Linked DNA regions of Homo sapiens. The protein of the gene in region 5 purifies or fractionates together with the protein of the main gene of each other region. This does not show direct contact. Each region holds a gene or a part of one and is shown on either strand. Other genes may lie near its edges.

The links.
Region 1: the proteins of TM9SF4 (region 5) and H2AZ2 purify together in Homo sapiens (affinity purification with mass spectrometry; one large-scale study listed by BioGRID and IntAct). This does not show direct contact.
Region 2: the proteins of TM9SF4 (region 5) and PHF14 purify together in Homo sapiens (affinity purification with mass spectrometry; one large-scale study listed by BioGRID and IntAct). This does not show direct contact.
Region 3: the proteins of TM9SF4 (region 5) and SLC25A12 purify together in Homo sapiens (affinity purification with mass spectrometry; one large-scale study listed by BioGRID and IntAct). This does not show direct contact.
Region 4: the proteins of TM9SF4 (region 5) and TACR1 purify together in Homo sapiens (co-immunoprecipitation; one large-scale study listed by IntAct). This does not show direct contact.
Region 6: the proteins of TM9SF4 (region 5) and TMEM161A purify together in Homo sapiens (affinity purification with mass spectrometry; one large-scale study listed by BioGRID and IntAct). This does not show direct contact.
Region 7: the proteins of TM9SF4 (region 5) and RIOK3 purify together in Homo sapiens (affinity purification with mass spectrometry, with the first as the bait; one large-scale study listed by BioGRID). This does not show direct contact.

What each region holds. Positions count from the first base shown.
Region 1 is NC_000007.14:44,838,088-44,841,587, reverse strand, and holds part of H2AZ2 (histone H2A.V), read left to right. Parts: intron 1-575; coding exon 576-689; intron 690-3,500. UniProt on the Homo sapiens protein: Variant histone H2A which replaces conventional H2A in a subset of nucleosomes. Nucleosomes wrap and compact DNA into chromatin, limiting DNA accessibility to the cellular machineries which require DNA as a template.
Region 2 is NC_000007.14:11,036,372-11,039,871, forward strand, and holds part of PHF14 (PHD finger protein 14), read left to right. Parts: intron 1-46; coding exon 47-317; intron 318-613; coding exon 614-720; intron 721-2,388; coding exon 2,389-2,484; intron 2,485-3,500. UniProt on the Homo sapiens protein: Histone-binding protein. Binds preferentially to unmodified histone H3 but can also bind to a lesser extent to histone H3 trimethylated at 'Lys-9' (H3K9me3) as well as to histone H3 monomethylated at 'Lys-27' (H3K27ac) and trimethylated at 'Lys-27' (H3K27me3).
Region 3 is NC_000002.12:171,807,245-171,810,744, reverse strand, and holds part of SLC25A12 (electrogenic aspartate/glutamate antiporter SLC25A12, mitochondrial), read left to right. Parts: intron 1-468; coding exon 469-521; intron 522-1,058; coding exon 1,059-1,139; intron 1,140-3,500. UniProt on the Homo sapiens protein: Mitochondrial electrogenic aspartate/glutamate antiporter that favors efflux of aspartate and entry of glutamate and proton within the mitochondria as part of the malate-aspartate shuttle.
Region 4 is NC_000002.12:75,189,521-75,193,020, reverse strand, and holds part of TACR1 (substance-P receptor), read left to right. Parts: intron 1-3,076; exon of another isoform or gene 3,077-3,500. UniProt on the Homo sapiens protein: This is a receptor for the tachykinin neuropeptide substance P. It is probably associated with G proteins that activate a phosphatidylinositol-calcium second messenger system.
Region 5 is NC_000020.11:32,161,714-32,164,734, reverse strand, and holds part of TM9SF4 (transmembrane 9 superfamily member 4 isoform 1 precursor), read right to left. Parts: intron 1-3,021. UniProt on the Homo sapiens protein: Associates with proteins harboring glycine-rich transmembrane domains and ensures their efficient localization to the cell surface.
Region 6 is NC_000019.10:19,128,479-19,131,978, forward strand, and holds part of TMEM161A (transmembrane protein 161A isoform 1 precursor), read right to left. Parts: intron 1,830-3,500; coding exon 1,678-1,829; intron 1-1,677. UniProt on the Homo sapiens protein: May play a role in protection against oxidative stress. Overexpression leads to reduced levels of oxidant-induced DNA damage and apoptosis.
Region 7 is NC_000018.10:23,451,800-23,456,086, reverse strand, and holds the start of RIOK3 (serine/threonine-protein kinase RIO3), read right to left. Parts: upstream 2,801-4,287; 5' UTR 2,648-2,800; coding exon 2,585-2,647; intron 1-2,584.

The DNA.
Region 1 (3,500 bases), on a different chromosome or scaffold from region 5:
CAGTGAGCCAAGATGGCGCCACTGCACTCCAGCCTGGGTGACAGAGTGAGACTCTGTCTCAATAAAAAAAATAATAAAGGGCACAGACAAGTGGGATCAGGATACTTTGAAATGAGAAAAATACCCTCTTTTTCAGAAAGTAGAAAGAACCACAATGAGATAATAGTATTGATTTTTCTTAACTATCAGATCACCTCTTGAAACTGAAGAAAGAACATTTAAGATCTGAGGAAGGTATTGGAGGTTCAAAGTTGCATGTGGCTATTATGTGAAGAAATTAACTAGATAGGAATTTGATCCATGGGTCATGTTGAACGTACAGTTGATGACAGCCCAGCGTGGTATTTCTTCATTTTAGAGTGATATTTCCCATATTATGCAGAGGTTAAAGATTTTGGACAGATTACCAGAACAGAGACACAGGCCCTGGGAACTATTGATGCGTAATAGGTTTGGCTTCTGATATGTGTGATCAAGTTTTTTATTATTTCATGCTTACATTGTTCAGCCTTTGATTACAGTCAGTGCAATGTTAAGACTCTGCAGTGCTTCCCACTAAGACATCTCTCTTTTAGTTTCCTGTGGGCCGCATCCACAGACACTTGAAGACTCGCACCACAAGCCATGGAAGGGTGGGTGCCACTGCTGCCGTGTACAGTGCTGCGATTCTGGAGTACCTCACTGCAGAGGTTTGTACAGGAATGTCTGTTGTATATGGCCATCCAGAAGGTGCACTAGTCTCAGTGACAGAAACCCATGGAATATATTTGAAAAAAGACATATTATGCTCACTGGGGCTTTTTTGTTTGTTTGTTTGGAGACAGAGTTTCACTCTTGTTTCCCAGGCTGGAGTGCAATGGCCAGTCTCGGCTCACTGCAACCTCTGCCTCCCGGATTCAAGCGATTCTCCCACCTCAGCCTCCCAAGTAGCTGGGACTACAGGTGTGCACCACTGTGCCCAGCTAATTTTTGTATTTTTAGTAGAGACAGAGTTTCACCATGTTGGCCACACTGGTCTCAAACTCCTGACCTCAGGTGATCTACCTGCCTCAGCCTCCCAAAGTGCTGAGATTACAGGCTTGAGCCACCACGTCCGGCCTCATTGGTTTCTTTAATAGCAGTTTGAGATGCATCTTGTCAGCTATTACCCAATGCCAATGTAAAAGAACCTTGGTGTACTTGTTTTTAAAGCTAAGCAAGGGGCTGGGCACAGTGATTCACGCCTGTAATGCCAACACTTTGGGCGGCTGAGGTGGGTAGATTGTACACTTGAGTCCTGGAGTTCCAGACTAGGCTGGGTGACAGAGCAAGACCCTATCTCAAAGTAAAAAAATTTTTAAAAGTTAAGCAAGGGCCAGCAATCTCTTATCTTTTATTTTTATTTTTTTATTTTGAGACTGGGTCTCACTCTGTCACCTAGGCTGGAGTATAGTGGCATGATCATAGCTCACTCCAACCTCAAACCTCCTGGGTTCAAAGGATCCTCCTGCCTCAGCCTCCCTAGTAGCTGTGACTTCAGGTGTGTGCCACCACACCTGGCTAATTATTTATTTATTTATTTATTTATTTATTTATTTATTTATTTTGAGACAGGGTCTTGCTCTGTATCCCAGGTGGAGTGCAATGGCACAATCTTGGCTCACTGCAACCTCCACTTCTTGGGTTCAAGCAATTCTCCTGCCTCAGCCTCCCCAGTAACTGGGATTACAGGCACCCGCCACTACACCCGGCTAATTTTTGTATTTTTAGAGGAGACTGGGTTTCACCATGTTGGCCAGGTCAGTCTCAAATTCCTGACCTCAGGTGATCCACTTGCCTCAGCCTCCCAAAGTGCTGGGACTACAGGTGTGAGCCACTGCGCTGGGTGCTAATTTTTTATTTTTATTTTATTTATTTATTTTTTTTTGAGACAGAGGCTCGCTCTGTCACCCAGGCTGGAGTGCAGTGGTGCAGTCTCGGCTCACTGCAACCTCCGCCTCCCGGATTCACGCCATTCTCCCACCTCAGCCTCCCGAGTAGCTGGGACTACAGGCACCCGCCACCACGCCCGGCTAATTTTTTTTTTTTGTATTTTTAGTAGAGACGGGGTTTCACCGTGGTAGCCAGGATGGTCTCGATCTCCTGACCTCGTGAGCCACCCACCTCCACCTCCCAAAGTGCTGGGATTACAGGCGTGAGCCACCGCGCCCAGCCTATTTTTTATTTTTTTGTGGAGACAGGGCTCCCTATGTTACCCAGGCTGGTTTCTAACTCCTAGCCTCAAGTGGTCCTCCCAAGTTGCTGGGATTACAGACATAAACCACCATACCCCAGTGAACTTTGAAGTATGTATGTAATCAGTAGACAGTATTTGTGAAGTTAGAGCATAATGTTGTAGTTTATGAAGATTTGGGATGATGTAAAGTTTGGCCAGTGTGATGATATATAAAAATCACAAATATGATAATAGAAGTAAAAGACTCAGTCTGTCCTGGTTCTCTGCAGGGTTATACATACAAAATTGCTGTATATTACTCAGTTTGAAATTTCAGGAAGACAAGTTAATTGGGCAAGAGTTCTTGGGTCACAGACCACCACTTTCCCCATCCCTATTCCTCCTTTAAAAAAATCCGTTGGGAAGTCATAAAACTTCAGCTACATTCCAGATTGGGGAAGTAATTTGAGTAACAAGTAGGTCAAGTGTAGACGCATTCATTCTGGTGGAAACAGAAGGGTCTTACTTGGGGAGATGTGATTGGGAGCTAGGCTGAGGAATTTAGCTTTTAATCTGTATGTCAGTTATCATTGCTGTCATTTATTTCATTAGTCTCACCAAGTCATCTGTGTCCCACTGGGGATTTAACATCGAATTATGGATGTTATGGATAGTTTCAGCTTCTCTGTGTCATGATCAAGGGGTGTTTTGTTTTTGGGGTTTTTCTTGTGTGTTTGTTTTGAGACAGGATCTCTCTCTGTCTCCCAGGCTGGAAGGCAGGGACATGATCTCTGCTCATTGCAACCTCTGCCTTCTGGGTTCCAGTAATTCTCCCACCTCAGCCTCCGGAGTAGCTGGGGCTACCGGTGTGCATCACCACACCTGGCTAATTTTTGTTATTTTCTTGTAGAGACAAGGTTTTGCCATGTTGGCCAGGCTGATCTCGAACTCCTGACCTCAAATGATCTGTCCGCCCCAGCCTCCCAAAGTGCTGGGATTACAGACATGAGCCACCTTTTATTAAAAGAGGCCACCTGGCCTCTTTTATTTTTAAAAATTTTTAAATTTTAATTAAAATACATTTTAAAACTTTTCTATAAGCATTAAGAAATAAATTTCACGGCTGGGCACGGTGGCTTACGCCTGTAATCCCAGCACTTTGGGAGGCTGAGGTGGGCAGATCACGAGGTCAAGAGATCGAGACCATTCTGGCCAACATAGTGAAACCCTATCTCTACTAAAGATACAAAAATTAGCTGGGCATGGTGGCGTGTGTCTGTGTATAGTCCCAGCTACTCAGGAGGCT
Region 2 (3,500 bases), on a different chromosome or scaffold from region 5:
GTTTCATTTTATTATCTTTTAAAATTTGAATACATTTCTTTTATAGGCAAGGATCAATGCCCGGCTTCAGCAGTATCGTGCCAAAGCAGAACTAGCTCGATCTACCAGACCCCAGGCCTGGGTTCCAAGGGAAAAATTGCCCAGACCACTCACCAGCAGTGCTTCAGCTATTCGTAAACTTATGCGGAAAGCAGAACTCATGGGGATCAGTACAGATATCTTTCCAGTGGACAATTCAGATACTAGTTCTAGTGTGGATGGAAGGAGAAAACATAAGCAACCAGCTCTCACTGCAGATTTTGTGAATTATTATTTTGGTCAGTATAGACACTGGTACATGCACATTTTCACTGAGAACAATTTGTTAATGAAAATGTTTGATATACTGTTAATTTTTAGAAATTTATTAGCCATGCTGCATATATCATAGAGGGATGTTTATTTTCCTAATATGTTGTGGGTTTTTACAAAATGCTAGGTTCATTTATTTGTAAATATACTTAAAAGTTTTAAACTATGTAGGTTTATCAATGTGATCATCTTTATAGCTAGTTTCTTCCTATGTCAGTTTTTACTTCCTACTAAAGTAAAATTCGATATTTCATTTAAATAGAGAGAAATATGCGCATGATTCAAATTCAGGAAAATATGGCTGAACAAAAGAATATAAAAGATAAATTAGAGAATGAACAAGAAAAGCTTCATGTAGAATATAATAAGGTAAGTTAGCTACAAAATATGCAACATAATGTGATAGATCTTACTGATGATTTCTTTTGTGAATGTATGGCATTTCTTTTATGTTTTGTTTTTAATTTCTTCTGGAGCTCTTTGGCTCTTCCCTATAACTCCTACTCCTCATTAGCTTCATTATCATCACTGTCTCTTACTGAGCACTTTGTGTGCCAGGCATAATTTTGATCTCTTTACATGTATTATTTAATTCCCAGCTTAACTTTATAGTGTAGGTTATAATCATTGCTTCCATTTTCAGGGAGAAAACTGAATCCTGAAGAAGTTAAATAATTTGCCCAGGTTCACACAAGTAGTCAAGTCACAGACTTGACAAATGAAGTCAGTTGGTGTGAGGCCAACTCATGTGACTCTGTTCTCTATTTCTAATCAATAAACATTGCTATAGAGCTTCACTTTCTAAGTTTGTAGAAAATTTAGAAACTTTTCTTTAAATTATTATTTATCTTGAATTATATTATAATGTTTGGAATAAAAATTTCCAAATTTGAATTTTCATGTACCTCTTCATCGTAATGAGAAAAGATTCAAAAAGAAGTATCTTATAAAAGCAAAATGTGGTTAAAATGTTATACCAAGTATAACTTGACATATAAAACGGGTATTGACTTATTGTTAGAAAACATTTTAAGTCATAAAAAAATAGTAGGAAGTACGTTTCCAATAATCAGCTACACTGTGTAGTAAAAAGAGTACTTGGAATTAGATTCAGAGGACCTGGGGATTCTTGCTAGTTCTGTGATCTTGGCCAACTCACAAAAACTCTATGATCCTTAGTTTTTTTCATTGGGAAAATAGTGGAAATACATCTTGAGAGAGTCACAAGGATTAGTTAGCAGAACATGATGTTATATAACAAACTGTAAAAGAAGGTATAAACGTAGTTACCATTATTAGTAAAAATGCCAGCAGAAAACAAAATGCTTACAGCAACAAATACTGCTGAATAATTGGATAGCCTTGTCTCTCAGTGGTATTGTGGCTTGAATATATTAAAAATATATGGAGGCCGAGCGCAGTGGCTCATGCCTGTAATCCCAGCACTTTGGGAGGCCAAGGCAGGTGGATCACGAGGTCAAGAGATCGAGACCATCCTAGGAGTTTGAGACCAGCCTGGCCAACATGGCAAAACCCCGTCTCTACTAAAAATACAAAAGTTAGCTGGGCGTGGTGGAGGGTGCCTGTAATCCCAGCTACTCGAGAGGCTGAGGCAGGAGAATTGCTTGAACCCAGGAGGTGGTGGTTGCAGTGACACAAGATCGTGCTACTGCACTCTAGCCTGGGCGACAGAGTGAGACTCCATCTCAAAAAAAAAAAAAAAAAAATAGATCGAGACCATCCTGGCCAACATGGTGAAACCCTGTCTCTACTAAAAATACAAAAATTAGCTGGATGTGGTGGTGCACACCTGTAGTCCCACCTACTCGGGAAACTGCAGCAGGAGAATCGCTTGAACCCCAGAGGCGGAGGTTGTAGTGAGCCGAAATCGTGTCACCGCACTCCAGCCTGGTGACAGAGTGAGACTCTGTCTCAAAAAAAAAAAAAATTATATATATATATGTGGAATAGAAATGTAGATATTTCTTAAATTGTCAGATATTTTAATGAAGTTTACTAATTTGGCTTACTTTGTAGCTATGTGAATCTTTAGAAGAACTACAAAACCTGAATGGAAAACTTCGAAGTGAAGGACAAGGAATATGGGCTTTACTAGGCAGAATCACAGGGCAGGTTAGTTTCTTTCCAATTGCTGTCTCCTTCAGTTCTTGCTCCCTATATGATTTTCAAAGAACAGATTTTTGATACAACTGTCATTTGACTAACCGAAGAATTCTGTTTGATCAGGGCCTAATCCTTTGGGATAATGATTTCTGCTTGAAATACACCTAGAGCATTGGAAGCTGCCTACTGAGAACCTCTAGTTTAATTTGGTTGTTTCAACAGCTATCTTGTGTGCAAAATTTTTTCATTTGCTCTAACTGATTGACCTGTCATTTGTGATGAAGCTTAAGACTTGAAGCATGAGTTTTTCCTACTACATTCTTCTTTCCTTTAATTTAGCAGTTTTAGATTCCCTGCCACATTTTTTTCTTTCCTGTCCTTATGCTGTATTTTTTTTTCTATTCTTTGGATGTATAATTTAAAATTAAAAAAGGCAAACTAGAGATATTCATTTTTATGTTAATTTGGTTTTCAGCTGTATAAGAGATGGTTTTTTAAACTTTAATGTTAAAATGTATTTTTCCCCTTTAACAGTAGCTGTGATCGTAGTTATTAAAAAAAACTTTATTCATGAACACCTTTAGTCTGTTAAAGTTTTTGGTGTTGAATAATTATTGTTAGATGGATTTCTTTGAATGCCTTTTTTAGTACTGTGTATATAATTGATAAATTACAGTTTTCGCAAATATTTTTTATTTTTTAAGGATGATGGAGACCCACTGTTTGTGGTCCTTTCACTAAAAAGTAGTTTTATTTGTGAAGGAGCTTTTCGAACAGATATTTTTCATTATACTTGTTTTAGAGGTTTATGGAGAGTCAAATTCATCACACAGCTTATTTAAATATTTTAAGAAGTGATACATACTGATTTGTACTGTGCTATACCAGCTTTGAAGATGCTTTATGTGAAAAGAATGTGTGTGGCTTGTATCCTAAAGAATGTTTTAAAAGGTGAGAATTAGTAGTCGCCTCTGGGAGGATCAGCCTTTGTTCCTGTTAATAGGTTGGTTGATGGATTTTTGGAA
Region 3 (3,500 bases), on a different chromosome or scaffold from region 5:
AACGAAGCCACTGTATGCCATTATGTAGGTAGCAAAATCTGGGTATGCTTAACAGCATGCTTTTCAGAGCTTTTCCAAGTGTACAGTATCTGTGTATGTTTATATGTTGTTGGTTGTAATAAGGGAGGGAATTTGGTTACATTGTTATTGGCAGTGTTCCCAGAATAGAGAAGACGCATGGCTCCGTTTCTTCTTCATGGACTTTTTGGGAAGTGTTGGATAACTAGGCTTTAAAGTAAGCATGCTTAAGAAGAGGATTTATAGCCTCAAGAAAACGTGACATTATACTGCATTTGTAAATAATTATTACATATGTATACAGAGTTTTAAGGATAATCTTTTTCCCATTTTAATGAAAACTCTGCAATGTTTGATGGGTAAATAATATGGGGGAAACTCTTTGTTGCTGGGCTTGTGTATTCATGTCTGGTACAGCTATATTGCTGATGATTCTGTCCCTTTACCTAGGTCTGATACCACAACTTATAGGGGTTGCTCCAGAAAAGGCCATTAAACTGACTGTAAGTTTATCTCTAACTGAATTTATGTCATTTGTTTAGATTACCATTAAGCCAAAAAGCTAAAATCAAGGCTAGGCGTGGTAGCTCATGCCTATAATCTCAGCATTTTGGGTGGTGGGAGGATCACTTGAGACCAGTTCTAAACCAGCATAAGCATAGTAAGAACTCAGCTCTACCAAAACAACAACAACAACAACAAAATTAAAAATTAGCCAAGTGTGGTGATTTATGCCAGGAGGCTGATGTGGGAGGATTGCTTGAGTCCAGGAATTTGAGGCTGTAGTGAGCTATGATCATGCCACTGCACTCCAGCCTGAGCAACAGAGTGAGACCCTGTCTCAAAAACAAAACTAAAATTGATGCTGCTGACACTGGCACACTGTCGCAGAATTTGTACAACTTTAATTTTACATGTAAGCATTTGATAATTTTAAATTTTATCATAAGACAAATATTTTGCTGACTTGGAAAAGCAACAGTATGCCAGAAGAGAAATGGTTGGGAATTTTGGTTAACTGATGTTGTCTTTCTAATTAGGTTAATGATTTTGTTCGGGACAAATTTACCAGAAGAGATGGCTCTGTTCCACTTCCAGCAGAAGTTCTTGCTGGAGGCTGTGTAAGTATTACTGTTAGGCGCTTCTTGTGACAAATACATTCCGTTGACCTTTTTGCACAGATATAATAGATATCTTAGTGGCATTTCTCTTGAACTCAAGGGATTCTAAGCAGGTTTTCTCAATAATCATATGGAATAAGTTTTAAATTTTATTGTAAAAGCTAACGGGTTTTGAGTGTAGAAAAGAGGTAGCATTTTCCGCCAGTTAGAATGGTGATCATTAAAAAGTCAGGAAACAACAGATGCTGGAGAGGATGTGGAGAAATAGGAACCATTTTACACTGTTGGTGGGAGTGTGAATTAGTTCAACCATTGTGGAAGACAGTGTGGCAATTCCTCAAGGATCTAGAACTAGAAATACCATTTGACCCAGCAATCCCATTACTGAGTATATACCCAAAGGATTATAAATCATTCTACTATAAAGACACATGCACACATATGTTTATTGTGGCACTATTCACAATAGCAAAGACTTGGAACCAACCCAAATGCCCATCAGTGACAGACTGGATTAAGAAAATTTGGCACATATACACCATGGAATAATATGCAGCCATAAAAAAGGATGAGTTCCTGTCCTTTGCAGGGACATGGATGAAGCTGCAAACCATCATTCTCAGCAAACTGTCACAAGGACAGAAAACCAAACACCACATGTTCTCACTCATAGGTGGGAATTGAACAATGAGAACACCTGGACACAGGGCAGGGAGCATCACACACTGGGGCCTGTCATGGGGTTGGGGGTTGGGGGTTGGGGGAGAGATAGCAGTAGGAGAAATACCTAATGTAAATGATGAGTTGATGGGTGCAGCAAACCAACATGGCACATGTATACCTATGTATCAAACCTGCACATTGTGCACATGTACCCTAAAACTTAAAGTATAATAACAAAAAAAGAGGTGGCATTTTCATCAGCTCTATCTCTTTGATGCTCCTAAAGCATTACCTTCCAGACTTTTTTAAAAGTTCTAATTCCTATGCCTTTTAAGAAATAGAGTACAGAAAATATAGTAGTGGATAGAGTTACCATTCATATATGTTAACTGGAACTTTAAAACAAGTGTGAGATGGCTGATTAATTGGGCCCTTATATCTTAGGTATAGGACTGAGTAAGCCATTGTTTAATAATAATTTTTCTTCTTTAGAGGCCAGAGGGTATGGCAAACAATAATAACGGTAACTACATTTCAGCTATTGACAGAAATTCTGAACCAAGAGACTCAGATATTTACTTAGCGCACAAAGGTTTCTGTCTTTAAAGTGTAAGCATGACATGATTATTGGCAAACAATAATAACGGTAACTACATTTCAGCTATTGACAGAAATTCTGAACCAAGAGACTCAGATATTTACTTAGCGCACAAAGGTTTCTGTCTTTAAAGTGTAAGCATGACCAATTCTTAAATCTATTTGCAGCTCAACTAATTTCATTTGTGGTATTTGTTTCATATTTGATAACACATGGTTCGTTTCAGACTTGTTTAGTCCATTTTGTTCTTGGAAACATTAATAACTTCCAGTTGAATTGGCTGACAGTCTTGGCTAAAACTTCCTCAGTTGCTTGTGAAACCTGAAGTGATGAGGTCAGTGACCTTGGCAACATTTAATTCAGAGACACTGCCTCGGGGGTCAGAGAGAGAGAGAGGTTGCTCCAGATTCTCTTTGATATGTGTCAGTGTGGCACATACCTGAGTCCTCTGCAGAGTTGCTTTGGAAGAGGTGGACTGCTGTGTGGGTGTGTGTGTGCCTGTATGCATGCCCCAGCACATTCTCAGGAAGGAAATCTCTTTGGCTACATTTCTTTTTTAATGAAGAGTTAACAGTGGACATAGAATAAAACTTTTGCTTAGGTGGATCACCAAAAATGAAGTTTCTCTTCTTCCTTTATTCCAATTAGATTCTGTAATTGGTTCTTATCTAGAGAGCGAACCTTTGCCAATCATAAATATTCTTTTTCTTGGTCATTTTAAGTTTCTGTTTGGTTAAGAAGCTTTCTAACTCATTTTTATCACAGCACATGCATACCTTTGCCAGAAATATAAGTCATGCTCTTTCTGTTCCATGTAGCTAATTATTTGTTTCCGTTTGCAATATCCAGGTTTTTGGTCATGAAGCTGACCTGTTTCCATGTCTGACATGTGACCTAAGTGGTTAAACCAAAATAAGATGTTTAGTTCCTTTGTTCTTCCTAGCTACCGACCCTGTTTATAGGTTTGAACTTTAGGAATTTCTATTGAAGTCTGGGTTGCCTTGAGGGTTGTGCTGACACTCTAAATCTCTTCCTTAATCATGACTCATTTCTGGAGGCTTTGATGGATTGTCTAGTGGGAAATTGACAGCATGAAAAAT
Region 4 (3,500 bases), on a different chromosome or scaffold from region 5:
AGGAGGAAACGACAAAGAGGAAGAGAGGCAGCAAGGCACAGGGAAATGAATGTGGAGTTTTGTGTTTTAATTAACTTCAAGAACACTGGATTGGGAATACTCATAATAATTTATTAATATCCATCATTTGGAAACTAGAAAGGAAGTTTTATGTTAATAAAATTGATAATGATATCTTTTATTTATGTTCCCTCCAGTCCATTGTCTCATTTAATCTTCATCATGCCAATGAGGATTCTGTTTCAACCTGGAAGAGCGATTAGAAACAATTTCTTTTAGCATTGTCCTCCCACTCTCCACCCCCTCACAGCTTGAAGACCCATGCAATTTGCTTTTATGTGCCTTAGACATCTGCCTACATGCTCCTGCACTTGGTGGCTTTTGGATGATACCTCATTTAAGGAAAACTGTCATTGGAGGCAGAAAAGCAATGTAAGAGTCCTATCACACAAGAGAAAATACTAGAGGCCTTTTTGACAATTTTCCACCCAAATAAAAGTTCAACCCCTCAACTTTCCAAACAGGGCCATTGTAAGAGTACCAAACTCTGCTTAAATATTCTACTCTATTTTTCCCATTTGTTAAATTCAATAAATTATTAAATCATCACAGAATTCTTCCTTTTCTTGAAATGAAATTTGCCTCTTTGGTTTTGGACTATTCCTACTTGTCTCAGGCCTCTTCCACGTAGCAGGCTTTCCAGTAAGTATAAGGATAAGGTATTAAGCTTCTATTTATCTTGAAGCATCCCCAGCTCTGGTTAACTGTCCCTGGTTCCTCCAACTTTACATCATCATCATTAGTCTCTACTGGTTATTTCCATTTGTTAATGGCCCTCTTAAAAGGAGATGACCAGAACAGAGTTACCTTACTACCATCACTCTGTCTAGCATCACCTAGACACCTAGGACTGGCATCCTCCCTAGTGACCTTGCTGTCCTCTTTGACTTAGCTCAGTGCTTATACTAAGATGCTGTCCTAGACCTGCAAGTCTAGCTGAGGGGTCCTTATATTTCCACAGCATTTATCCCGTGGTGTTGCAACTGTCTGTACCTTGTCTATCTCTCCCACACCTCCCTGCTTACTAGATTGCAAGCTCCATGAAAACAGGGATCCCTTATTTTGTTTCCTGTTCCCAGAACCTATCCAAGTGCCTGGCACAGAGTAGGTACTCATTAAAATGTGTGCGTCATGAGCAAACTGACCATGCTTCTCTTCTGCACACATCAGCCAAAATCTAAAAACCAGACCCGATGCCTCAAGCAGACCGTATAGCACACTTACGATGCTGTGCCTTGATGCAAAAGAAAAACTGGGCCAAATTTCTCCCTACCATAAAGGTTTGTTACAAAATAGAATGCTTTTGATTCAGAACCCCCGTTCTAGAATAACCATGGTTTCTAACTCACACTTACTTCTTCCACACTCCAGTTGACTGAGCCCCACAGGATACCTGACCCACACCTTGCCACCCTCAACAGGTATTGTGCCCCAGGAAAAGACTTCCGATTGGAGGAGGTGCTTATCATTACCATCTTACCTCCCGTCTACCCAAGCATACCAGAAACTCAGAGAGATGAAAATGATAAGCACCTCCTCCATCTTATGGACCCTTCTCTGGCCTAACTGCTGTCAACCCCCTGGATTTTTCTCTAACACCCCCCACTAGCAGCAGGTGCACTCTCTCCTTTACTTGTCCTTGCTGAGGTGAAACCAGGAGAAACCTACTCTCCACCCAGCCCTCCAACTCCTGCATTGTTCACACCATATAAAAATACGATAGACACAGGAAAATTCCAGCATGAAGTGGTGCATGTGAAGTCCCACGTATGTGAGACTGACTGGGGAACTGGCTTACATTGCACCAAACTTCTCTCTTGCCACCTTGAGAGACTTCAATTCCACCTCAGTGGAAGGGGAAATATGAAGCTCTCTGGATGAGGAGCACCAAAGATGAAGAGGTGCTTTATGATGACCTGGAGACATACGAATCAGCATGAGTTTTAATGCTACATATGAACTGCTCAAGGAAATTAATTTGTCTAAGCAGCCCTGGGCCTAATCCCCTGCCCTTCTCTTGTATAGTTCTTAATCTACTTTCCAATTCAGCTTTATCACTATGTTTAATATTTGGGATTCCCTGTTGAGTGCCTTTCATGTCTTTTGTATGAGCGCACCCTTTAATAAACTTACTCCTAGCCTTTGGCAGTAGAATGGTTAGGAAAGAGCCCAGGCGATGGGTTCCAGTGCTGGTTCTACCACTTAGTAGCTATGTGTACATATGCAAGGTATTTAACCTATCTGGGCCCCCAGTTTCCTCAACTGATAAAATGGTTATAATGAAACTTACCTTGTAGAAGGTAAGAAGAGAGGGAAAGATTTGAAAAGTCTGACATCCACTAAATACCACTAAAATACCAATTAATAGTAATTAATATTATGCCCTCTAGTAAACTCTGACACACAATCATATCCATTATACGTGTCCATTCTTGTCTCAGCCTCCTCCTGGATTCCTTCTACATCAAGTACAATAGCTACAGGGTAAAACATTTATGTTCTTCCCCCTAAAGATGGTAGTTTAAAACTGTCCTGACTGGGTCAGCAAATCTCTTGCTAAATGCTTTTCAACATTCTTTCCATCTTTGGAAATGTACACACAGTCTACCAGTAGTCCATCATTTGGATATTGTATATCATGGTCCAGAAAACCCAAATGTTTTCTTTTACACCATCCCCTAAGCATTCATTTCCAATCCTTTATGTCACAAAGTCACCACCCTTATATGGAGTGAGCATCATTGTTTAATATCTGAATGAGAATGTGTTCATTGCAAAAAGCTCTTATAGCTGCGTGAGTTTTAATTGATATTCAATTTGTTGAAGTTACAGTGTTTTTTAGCCTTTGAACATATTTTATAAATCATGGAAGTTTTCTTATATATCTAGTTTGTGTGCATTAAAGTATGAAACATTCATTTGCCTTTGTTCTTTGACTAAAGCTCAATAAATCTTTAAACATGAGATAGAATACTTCCAACTAAGTATTTGAATACCATTTTCAAACTTAATCAAATCAATCTTACATATTTTTATTAGTCACAATTTTTATAAGCTTAACAAATCAAATAATCTTTCAAAATGTAAACAGTATTTATAAACTTGATTAATTAAATTCCTCTAAGCATTTCAAACTATACTCACAAATTTGATACATCTGGCTTTGTTAAAATCTTCAAATCCCTAACAGGAAGACTTACAAATAGAAGAAACAAAATCTTTCTCAGGACTTACTTAGTTCTTGTAAGACTAATAAATCAAAACTTCTAAATTTAGCACACAAATTCTCTTAAAGCATTTCAACCTGCTGAGAATTAAACTGATAAATTCAGGTTCTCCTGAGCATCCAAACATTGACTACAAAATTAATTCATTAAATCCTCCTAGGTGTTACACTTAAAATTGCAAATCTTGTAAGTCAAATTCTCTAATATATCAGA
Region 5 (3,021 bases):
GTGGAACCTTGGTATCAAGATATGCCCAGGGCCTGAGTAGGGCCTGTCCCAGGACTCACAGGCAGACACATGGTCACAGAATGCCAGTAGCCCAGAAGAAAACAGTAAAGAAACAAAGAAAACAAAATAGGTCACCATTTGAAGCCCTCTCCTAAGCCTAAGGGGTGAAGGCCATGTTTTCAGGCTCAGCCCCGCATCTCTCCCCTAACCCCTTTTCTTTAAAGGGACAGGGTCTCCCTCTATTACCCAGACTAGAGCACAGTGGCATGATCACAGCTCACTACAGCCTCACCCTCCTGGGCTCAAGGGATCCTCCTGCCTCAGCCTCCCAAGTAGCTCAGACTATAGGTGTGTGCCACCACACCCAGCTAATATTTTTTCTAGCAATGGTGTCTTGCTCTATTGCCCAGGCTGGTCTCAGACACTTGGACTTAAGTTATCCTCCCACCTCTGAAAACGCTAGGATTATAGGTGTGAACCATATGCACCCAGCCTCCATCTCTTGTTATATGCATTCTTGTGGCTGGTGGTCGGGGGAGGGGTGGGGGAGGGACAAGGAGCAGAACCGTGGTAAAAGGAGGCAAGGGACGAGGCAAAGAGGCAGAGCCAGAAAGTTCCTCATTTTATACATAAGGCATTGGGGCTGGAGGAAGAGATTTTTTGAGCAGAGCAAGAAGACTGGAGCAGAAGGGAGGAAGGACAAGAGGCTGTGATGTGATCTCTAGTTTTGTTTAACCGTGTTCCTTGTCTTCCATATTCCAGATGTTTTGAGGAACACTCAAAACACCTGGTCCTGTTGGGGCCATCAATCCTAGCACAAAATAGGCCAGGTGCGGTGGCTCACGCCTGTAATCCCAGCACTTTGGGAGGCTGAGGCAGACGGATCACATGAGGTCAGGAGTTCAAGACCAGCCTGGCCAACATGGAGAAACCCTGTCTCTGCTAAAAACACAAAATTAGCCGGGCGTGGTGGTGTGCACCTGTAACCCCAGCTACTCAGGAGGCAGAGGCAGGAGAATCGCTGGAACCCGGGAGGCAGAGGCTGCAGCGAGCCAAGATCGCACCACTGCACTCCAGCCTGGGCAACAGAGCGAGTCTCCATCTCAAAAAAAAAAAAAAAAAAAAAAATTCCTAGCACAAGACCTAAGCCAGTCTGTCTGAATATGTGATGCTATTGGACCTGGAAAACAGTGAGCACTGGGCATGTCACCCGAGCAGAGCAGCGTGTCTTCACTGGCTGACGTATCATGGTAGACGAAAGACAGTCTTTTAGCTCTAGGGCTGCAAAGCTGGAAAGAGTAGACTCTAGGGCTGCCACTGGCCATCTTTCTACTTTGTGAAAAGATCTTGCCTGCAGACTGAGGCCAAAAAAAGATACACAGGGCTAAGGCGTGGGCACAGAGCCCTGGTATGTATGTGTACATACATACATACATACATATATATATATATATATATATATATATTTTTTTTTTTTTTTTTTTTTTTTGAGATGGAGTCTTGCTCTGTCACCCAGGCTAGAGTGCAGTGGCACGATCTTGGCTCACTGCAACCTCTGCCTCCAGGGTTCAAGCGATTCCCTTGCCTCAGCCTCCTGAGTAGCTGGGACTACAGACGTGCACCACCACGCCCGGCTAATTTTTTGTATCTCAGTAGAGACAGGGTTTCACCATGTTGGCCAGGATGGACTCGATCTCTTGACCCTGTGATCCACCCTCCTCGGCCTCCCGAAGTGCTGGGATTGAGCCCTGATATTTTTGAGACTCTGGATCTAAGCATGGTTGAGGCTAGAACTCCAATTTCTTAGTCTTTCCAGTTATATAAGCAAATACATTCTTTTTGCTTAAGCTACTTTTTTTCCCTTTTTTTTTGCTTAAGCTACTTTGATAGAGTTTTAGTCACTTGCCACTTATGAGAGTTATGATTAATATGGGCTATAGAGGAGGGAGATTAGATTTGTTCTAGATGATCCCAGAATTAAGACTAAGGTCTAAAGATGGAAGTCACAGCAAGGGAGACTGCAGTGTGAATCAAGACCTTGATAATGACAGGAGCTGTCCAGAAAGAATGGGAATGTTAGGAGGGAGTGTCTTCTCTGTTGCTGGATGTAGTAGAGCAGGGGTCTGCAATCTTTTACTTAGAGGGCCAGATTGTAAATATTTTAGTTTCTGCAGGCCATATGGTCCCTGTCGCAACTACTCAACTCTGCCATTGTAGTGTGAAAGCAGCCATGGACAGATATGTTAATGAATGACCATGGCTGTGTTCCAATAAAAATTTATAGAAACAGGCCTGCTGGCCCACGCGGGCTGCAGTTTGCTGACCCCTGAGCTAGAGAATCATCTGTTGAGACTGTTAGAGAAGAGGGGCACAGTCACCAGACTGGAGGTAGGGGTACAGCACTACACTAAATGATCCTTCCAGTCTTTTCCAACTTGACTGTTTTTGGGAAACGGCATTCCCAGCTTCGATCAACTGACCTACAACTCTATTTTGCAAATACGCCTGACTGCCACAGAGGACTGCTTGCTTCTGGGCTCTGGAGACCCAAAGTACAGCAGGTCAGAGTAAGTCTTGAGTATTAGTTTTGGAGGTGAGGGGCCCAACAGGGCTCCTCCAAATTCCTCTCAATGGCTCATCTGGTTTGTGTATCATGAATGAATCTAGTAAAACTGTCGTGGGGACATCTGTATTCTTGCCCACGTCTCTCTCTCGGGACAATGAGCTCTGTGAGTTGCCCTAGTCAGGTAAGCCTGGCTCCCTCTTATTATTGGGCCACACTTTACCTATGTGGGGTCACAGAGTTAGGAGGGCTCCGAGGTGCCTGTGAAAAACTTTCCCATCCTCTCCTTACTCTGCAGGATTGAACAGTACTTGCGTGAAGAAGAGAACACCTGCAGAGACAGGATACCTGCAGCCCTAAATTTGGGTTCTACTATTTAGACTATTTCAGCATTTTGTGCTTTTATCTTTATTAACTCCTTTCTACTTTTCTTCTTTCATGTTACTCTTATCTTTTCC
Region 6 (3,500 bases), on a different chromosome or scaffold from region 5:
CTTGGCCTCCCAAAGTGCTGGGATTACACATGTGAGCCACCACACCTGGCCTACATTTTTTTTTTTTTTTTTTTTTTGAGACGGAGTTTCACTCTTGTTGCTCAGGCTGGAGCACAATGGCTCGATCTTGGCTCACCACAACCTCCGCTTCCTGGGTTCAAGCAATTCTCCTGCCTCAGCCATCCAAGTAGCTGGGATTACAGGCATGTGTCACCACGCCCGACTAATTTTGTATTTTTAGTAGAGACAGGGTTTCTCCATGTTGATCAGGCTGGTCTTGAACTCCCGACCTCAGGTGATCTGCTTGCCTGAGCCTCCCAAAGTGCTGGGATTACAGGCATGAGCCACCATGCTCGGCCATCTAAATATACTTAATGCCACTGAGCTGCACATTTAAAAATGGTTAAGATGGTGAATTTTATGTTTTGTCTATTTTACCACAATGAAAAAAAATTCAAAGAGAAAAAAGATTCAAAGATGGGCAACAATGTGAACAGGTATTTCACAAAAATTTCACAGAAGAGACATGAATCATGAATAAACAGGAAAAGGTGCTCAACTTCCCTGGTAATCAGAGACATGCATGTTAAGGCCACAGAGGGCATCATTCCATGTGACGAGGGCTAGGTTGGCAAAAATCAAGCCCTATCCATGGATCTTGATTCATTTAAACCTTACTGCCGCCCCCTTGGGAGATTGGTGCAGTCACTACCCCACCTACTTATTATTTGAGGGGTAGGTTTGCAGGTACTCATATGATTATTTTGCTTTATAATTGACATACACATCTTCTTTGTATATATCAAACATATATAATTTTAAAAACTGAAAGGCAGGGAGAATTGGAGAAGGTAAAACTCAAGCAGTCAGCAGGGTCATGTGGGCCATGGTGAGGGCTATGGTCTTTCTCCTAAGACCGGGGGAGTGTGGTGCCGGGCAGAGAAGTGATGAGGTCCAAATTATATGTTAAAAGGATCATTTAAGAGGCCAGGCACGGTGGCTCACACCTGTAATAACAACAATTTGGGAGGCTGAGGCGGGCAGACTGCTTGAGCTCAGGAGTGTGAGACCAGCCTGGGCAACATAGTGAGACCCTGTTTCAATAAAAATAAATAAATAAATAATTTTTTAAAAAAATGAAAAAAGAGGCCACACACAGTGGCTCATACCTGTAATCCCAGCACTTGGGGAGGCTGAGGTGGGTGGATCACCTGAGGTCAGGAGTTTGAGACCAGCCTGGCCAACATGGTGAAACCCCATCTTTACTAAAAATACAAAAATTAGCCAGGCGTGGTGGTGCACACCCATAATCCCAGCTTGGGAGGCTGAGGCAGGAGAATCACTTGAATGCAGGAGGCAGAGGTTGCAGTGAGCCAAGATCATGCCACTGAACTCCTGCCTGGGTGACAAAAGTGAAACTCCATCTCAAAAAAAAAAGAAAAAAAAAGAGCTATAGCCATGAGTGTCCATCAGAGACAGTGAGAGAGGCAATGTCCTGTCTTCCCCAAAGCCCAACAAGGTTCAGGAGCTGAGATGGTCACTAATGGGGACTGCCTTCACCCCAGGAGCCCACTCCTTTGCCTACTCGTGCTGGACACGGAGCCAGTTAAACCATCTTGGTCAGATTACATGAGGGAGTGACAGCTGCGGTGGCCCCACGTTGGGGGCTGCACTTACCAGGCTCCAGGCCCAGCTCGAGGGTCTCCTCCCGCACCACTTGCACCAGCATGGCCAGCAGCAGGAAGAGGAAGGCAAAGGTGAGGCAGACAGAGCGCTCACCCCCCTCCTCGGCGCTGAAGTACAGCCGTGTCACTGTCAGGAACATCTTGCTGGAGGCTGGAGCTAAGGAGGCCTCAGGTGCCACTGCCCCACTCTGCCCATTTCACCACACTCCGTCTGGGACCCCAGAACTCCAGGGAACAAGCACTGCTGCACAAATAGGCCTTGGGGATGACCTAGAGGAGTTCGGTTTTGGGGTGCTGGATCTCAGATCAGGATGTGGGCTGGGGGTTCCCGTTGAGTGGGAGATGGCCTCATCAGGCCACCGTGTCTGTACAGCCTCCCGCCCTGGGTGACCCTGCCTCTTTCACCCACCTCACCTACTTCACATCCCTTGGAAAAGCAATCAGATATAGAAGGGCTTCATCTCCAATCTGCTGTCAAAATGCAGCATGGGGGCCAGACACAGTGGCTCATGCCTGTAATCCCAGCACTTTGGGAGGCCAAGGCAGGAGGATCACTTGAGCCCAGGAGTTCAAGAGCAGCCTGGGTAACATAGTGAGACCCCCATCTCTACAAAAAATAATTTTGTGGTAGCCCCTGTGGTCCCAGCTACTGGGGAGCCTGAGGTGGGAGGATCGCTTGAGCCCAGGAGTTTGAAGCTGCAGTGAGCCCTGATTGCACCACTGCACTCCAGCCTGCACGACAGAGGGATATCTTGTCTCAAACAACAACAACAGGCCAGGCGCAGTGGCTCATGCCTGTAATCCCAGCACTTTGGGAGGCTGAGACAGGTAGATCACCTGAGGTCAGGAGTTTGAGACCAGCCCTGACCAACATGGTGAAACCCAGTCTCTACTAAAAATACAAAAATTAGTCAGGCATGGTGGCGCATGCCTGTAATCCCAGCTACTTGGGAGGCTGAGGCAGGAGAATCACTTGAACCCGGGAGACAGAGGTTGTAGTGAGCCTAAATCATGCCACTGCACTCCAGCCTGGGCAACAAGAGTAAAACTCCATCTCAAAAAACAAAACAAAACAAAAAACAAAAAAGCATGGGAATCTGGGGAACCAGTGGATTTTAAGACAGGTTTCCCACTCCAAAAGTCACAGGAGTAGCATTCTTTCTGTGCTTCCTCAGACTTGGGTCCCCAAAGTCATGTATTTGCTCTCTTTGGGAGGCCAAGGCAGGAGAATCACTTGAAGCCAATCAGGACCAGCCTAGGCAACAAAGCAAGATCCTGTCTCAACAACAACAACAAATATATATACATGTACATACATACACACACACACATATATATATATATACACACACACACACACACACACACAATTTTTTGGGGGGATGTAGTTTCGCTCTTGTCACCCAGGCTGGAGTGCAATAGCATGATCTTGGCTCACTGCAACCTCCACCTCCCGGGTTCAAGCAATTCTCCTGCCTCAGGCTCCTGAGTAGCTGGGATTACAGGTATGCACCACCACCCCCGGCTAATTTTTGTACTTTTAGTAGAGAAGGGGTTTCTCAATGTTGGTCAGGCTGGTCTTGAACTCCTGACCTCAGATGATCCACCTGCCTCGGCCTCCCAAAGTGCTGGGATTACAGGCATGAGCCACCGCGCCTGGCTAATTTTTGTATTTTTAGTAGAGACGGGGTTTCACCATGTTGGCCAGGCTGGTCTTGAACTCCAGACCTCAGGTGATCCGCCTGCCTCAGCTTCCCAAAGTGCTGGGATTACAAGCATGAGCCACCATGCCTGGAGTATATATTTTTTAAAATT
Region 7 (4,287 bases), on a different chromosome or scaffold from region 5:
CGGTGGCTCACACCTGTAATCCCAGCACTTTGGGAGGCCAAGGTGGGAGGATCACAATGTCAAGAGATCGAGACCATCCTGGCCAACATGGTGAAACCCCATCTCTACTAAAAATATAAAAATTAGCTGGGCATGGTGGCATGCACCTGTAGTCCCAGCTACTTGGGAGGCTGAGGAAGAAGAATTGCTTGAACCCAGGAGGCGGAGGTTGCAGTGAGCTGAGATCATGCCACTGCTCTCCAGCCTGGTGACAGAGCGAGGCTCCGTCTCAAAAAAAACCCAAAAATTAGCTAGGTGTGGTGGCACTGGCCTGTAGTCCAGCTAATCAGGAGGCCGAGGTGGGAGCCTGCAAGGTCAAGGCACAGTGTGAGATGTGATCATGCCACTGCACTCCAGCCTGGGTGACAGAGTGAGACCCTGTCTCAATTAAAAAAGAAAGAGGCCAAGGTGGGCGGATCACGAGGTCAGGAGATCGAGACCATCTTGGCTAACACGGTGAAACCCCGCCTCTACTAAAAATACAAAAAATTAGCCGGGTGTGGTGGTGGGCACCTGTGGTCCCACTACTCGGGAGGCTGAGGCAGGAGAATCGCTTGAACCCAGGAGGCGGAGCTTGCAGTGAGCCGAGATCGCGCCACTGCACTACAGCCTGGGCAACAAAGCGAGACTCCGTCTCAAAAAAAAAAAAGAAAAAGAAAAAAAAAAAAAGAAAGACGTTGGGCATGGTGGCTCACGCCTGTAATCCCAGCAGTGTGGGAGGCCGAGGCGGGTGGACACTTGAGGTCGGAGTTTGAGACCAGCCTGGCCAATACGGTGAAATCCCATCTCTACAAAAAAAAATACGAAAATCAGCTGGGCGTGGTGGCAGGCGCCTGTAATCCCAGCTACTCAGGAGGCTGAGTCACAAGAATTGCCTGAACCCGGAAGGCAGAGGTCGCAGTGAGCTGGGAGCAAACCACTGTACTCCAGCCTGGGCGATAGGGCGAGACTCCGTCTCAAATAAATAAATAAATGAAAAGGAAAGAAAGGAAAGAAAAGAAAGGAAGGAAAGAAAGGAAAGGAAAGGAAGGAAAGGAAGGAAGGAAGGAAGGAAAGAAGTCCTGACTAAAAAGTTTTGAGAATCCTTCCATTTTTCAAAACCCTCCTCAAATCTTCACCTCCTCCATGTAGGCTTCTGTAATCACTTTGGTTTTCCAAAAGGTTAGAGAAAAAAAGGATTAATGATAGTACTTTCAGCCTGTTTCTAATTGTTTTGCCTTTCAAAACACTGTCCTCCCAATAGAGCGTCTATAAATCCCAGAAGCATTTTTGTTGCACAATGAAAATGGAATTTTATAGTTCTGATGATGTACACTTAAATAAAAATATGACTGTTAAATAGTTTATTACTGAATTAGTTTGTAAGTGAAATTTGTTCTGAGATTAGGATGTATTCTGAATAGAGTCTGTCTCATTTGACATTTTTACCAGCCTCTGCCAATGCTTAACTGAAGGACTTTAACATACAGGGTATATATTCATAATACTAGTCTGTCTACTGATTTCATCCTTTTATGTCTGCTAATCTTGACCTTGTAAACAAGGTCTCAAGGAAAAATACACAAAATAACATGCAGACTTAACCACATTTGCCAACGCAGTATCTCAGATTCTTCCAACAGCTGTACGAGAACTTTTACAAAATTAACTTTTGGTTACTTAATAGCTAATTATTGACCCCTTTTCCTGTTAAGGCCTAGCCTGAAGATCTAATAAGACCTTTTAAATGGGAACAAATATTCTGTGTTAGCATGTAAAGAACAACTATGAAGCTAAAAAAGCTAGACTCCTTTACGACCTTAATTTGTGGAACAAAAAATCCCAATGGAAGCACTCTGCTCTCAAGCAGACCCTCCATAAAGTGGCAGAAAAGTGTTTTCATCCATATAATCAAAGTATCATGAAAAGGACCTGCCTGGAAACCAGAAAGCAAATGTGAAATAAAGGTCTTTAGTTTGCCACTCTATGAAAAAGTTTAAACGTCAAAGCTTAGGCAGATAATGAAATTCATAAGCACTTTACAGTCCGTGGTGCGCACTTGAATTTCAGCGTCGAGGGAGGAGGGTGCGCCTGGGTTTTATCTTTTACTGCTTCAAAAACAAGACATTTCCAAACTGGGATAACCACACTTATCAAATTAAGTAAACAGCTTCCTAAACCAACTTTCTGTCTGGCTAGCTGTGTATTCGGCTGACTCACTTGGCCAGTGAAAAACAAGATCGTGCTTGTTTCCCCTCCAGTATCATCAGGGTGTGTAAGCCAGTCCTGCTCAAATACATGCTACGGTGATACAGAAAGTACGCTGAAGAAATAGAGAGCCCTAACCACTCAAGGTGGCCTTTGGGAGATCCAGCCGCCCTCCGCCCCTCTTTCCGCTCCCTCCATCCCCATCCCGGCACCCCCGCGGCCAGTGCCCCCTTGCCGAGGTCCGCGGGGTCCCGCCCCAGAACTTCCCGAATCGCCCACGAAGCCGCCCTCTCCGAGCTTTCCGAGAGATCCAGCCCGTGTGACCAAGGCTAGTACTCCAGTCTCGTCTGCCACTTACCTTGCTGGGTCCCCAGGCCGCTGCCGTCCCGGGCTCAGGCGATGCCACTCCTACCAGATCCATTCGGGAATGAAGGCAGAGACAAGAACAGAGCAGAGAGGTGGCAGGACGGGCAGCAGGCTCCGCCGAGGAGACAGGCGGGACACGGGCGACTGGCTGCTGATGCCGGAGTGGAGGTGACAGATGGCGGCGACGGCGGCGGCCGCGTCCGGAACTGGATCTCTCCTCTTCCGCCCTCTTCGCTAGGACAGTCGCTTGCAATTGGCCGCACGCCCCTAGCTCCTCCTTAAGGCACCTTTCCCCGCCCCCGGGCGGGCTACTTCCGGCTGCTGACCGCCGGGCTCGGAGAAGCAAGCATCAGCTGGCTGTCGCTTGGGGTCACGTTGCCTGTGTCGGGCAGGGCAGGGCAAGAACTGGGTGTGGCTTCCTTTGGCCCAGGCTCTGCCCTGTCCCCGCACTGCCATCTCCTTCTTTCCTCCTTGGCACCCCAAAAATTGCCGCTGGATCTAAACTAGATTAGACTAGTGGATTGTAAATAAATAAACAAACTAGGCTCTCTCTGTTCATTCATTATTTCCTGGAGCAGTTCTAAACTGGGATGACTTGGGAGACAGAAAACGGCAGGTTTATAGAGGGAAAGGGCCTGGAAAGGACGGTCGGAGTTTGTGGTGGTTGTTGTTGAAGGGCGGGGCGTGGAATGCGGAAAATGTGTAAAATGTGTTACGTAACAGTGAACAAAAATAAGACTGCATAATAAAACTTTTGTTTCTGTATTTTGTAGAGATTCTAATAAAATGACCAGATAAAAGATAACTAAACATTGCATTTCACTTAGTATATCAATGCACTGTTCAAATCTTTCATTAACTTTTTAGTCCTCAAAATTACCGTGAGAGCTAAATTCTGTCATTATCTCTATTTTACTGATATTGAAACTGAGGCACAGAGAGGTAAAGTAATTTAGTTGAGGTCACACAGATAACAAGTGGCAAAGCTAATAAGGGGTGAACCCAGACAATCGGTTTGGGAACTGGACTGGCTGTACATTATATTTTGACTATAAACTATACACTGTCTATATGTTGTATATTCAAACATTCTAGAAATAGGTACTGAATAACTGTTTTCCCTAAATCTCAGTTCCGAGTCAGTATCTCTAACTGTCCATACTTGAGAGCCCTGGGTTACTGATCTTAATGATTTCCATTAGCACACAATCTTTGCCTCCTTTCCATTCCAGGTGAAAACATGTTCTGAATCCTCCAAATACCCCTACTGCAATAAGGCAAACTATAGCCATATGATAGGGTGCAGATGTGTGCTTGGCAAATGTTGCCTATATATGTGAATGTGTGTGGAAATTGTGTTCCTTCCTAGTGTTCAAAGGATTATAATTGGACGATAAATAGTTTAAGAAAAATGGGTGTAACTATTAATAGAAATGGACTTCTCAATTCTGGCTAGGAAAAAATAGGAGAGGGCTGGGCGTGGTGGGTCATGCCTGTAATCCCAGCACTTTGGGAGGCCAAGGTGGGTGGATCACCTGAGGTCAGGAGTTTGAGACCAGCCTGGCCAACACGGTGAAACCCCATCTCTACTAAAAATACAAAAAGCAGCCGGGTGTGGTGACACGCACTTGTAATCCCAGCTACTCAGGAGGCTGAGGCAGGAGAATCACTTGACCTCGGGAGGCCGAGGTTGCA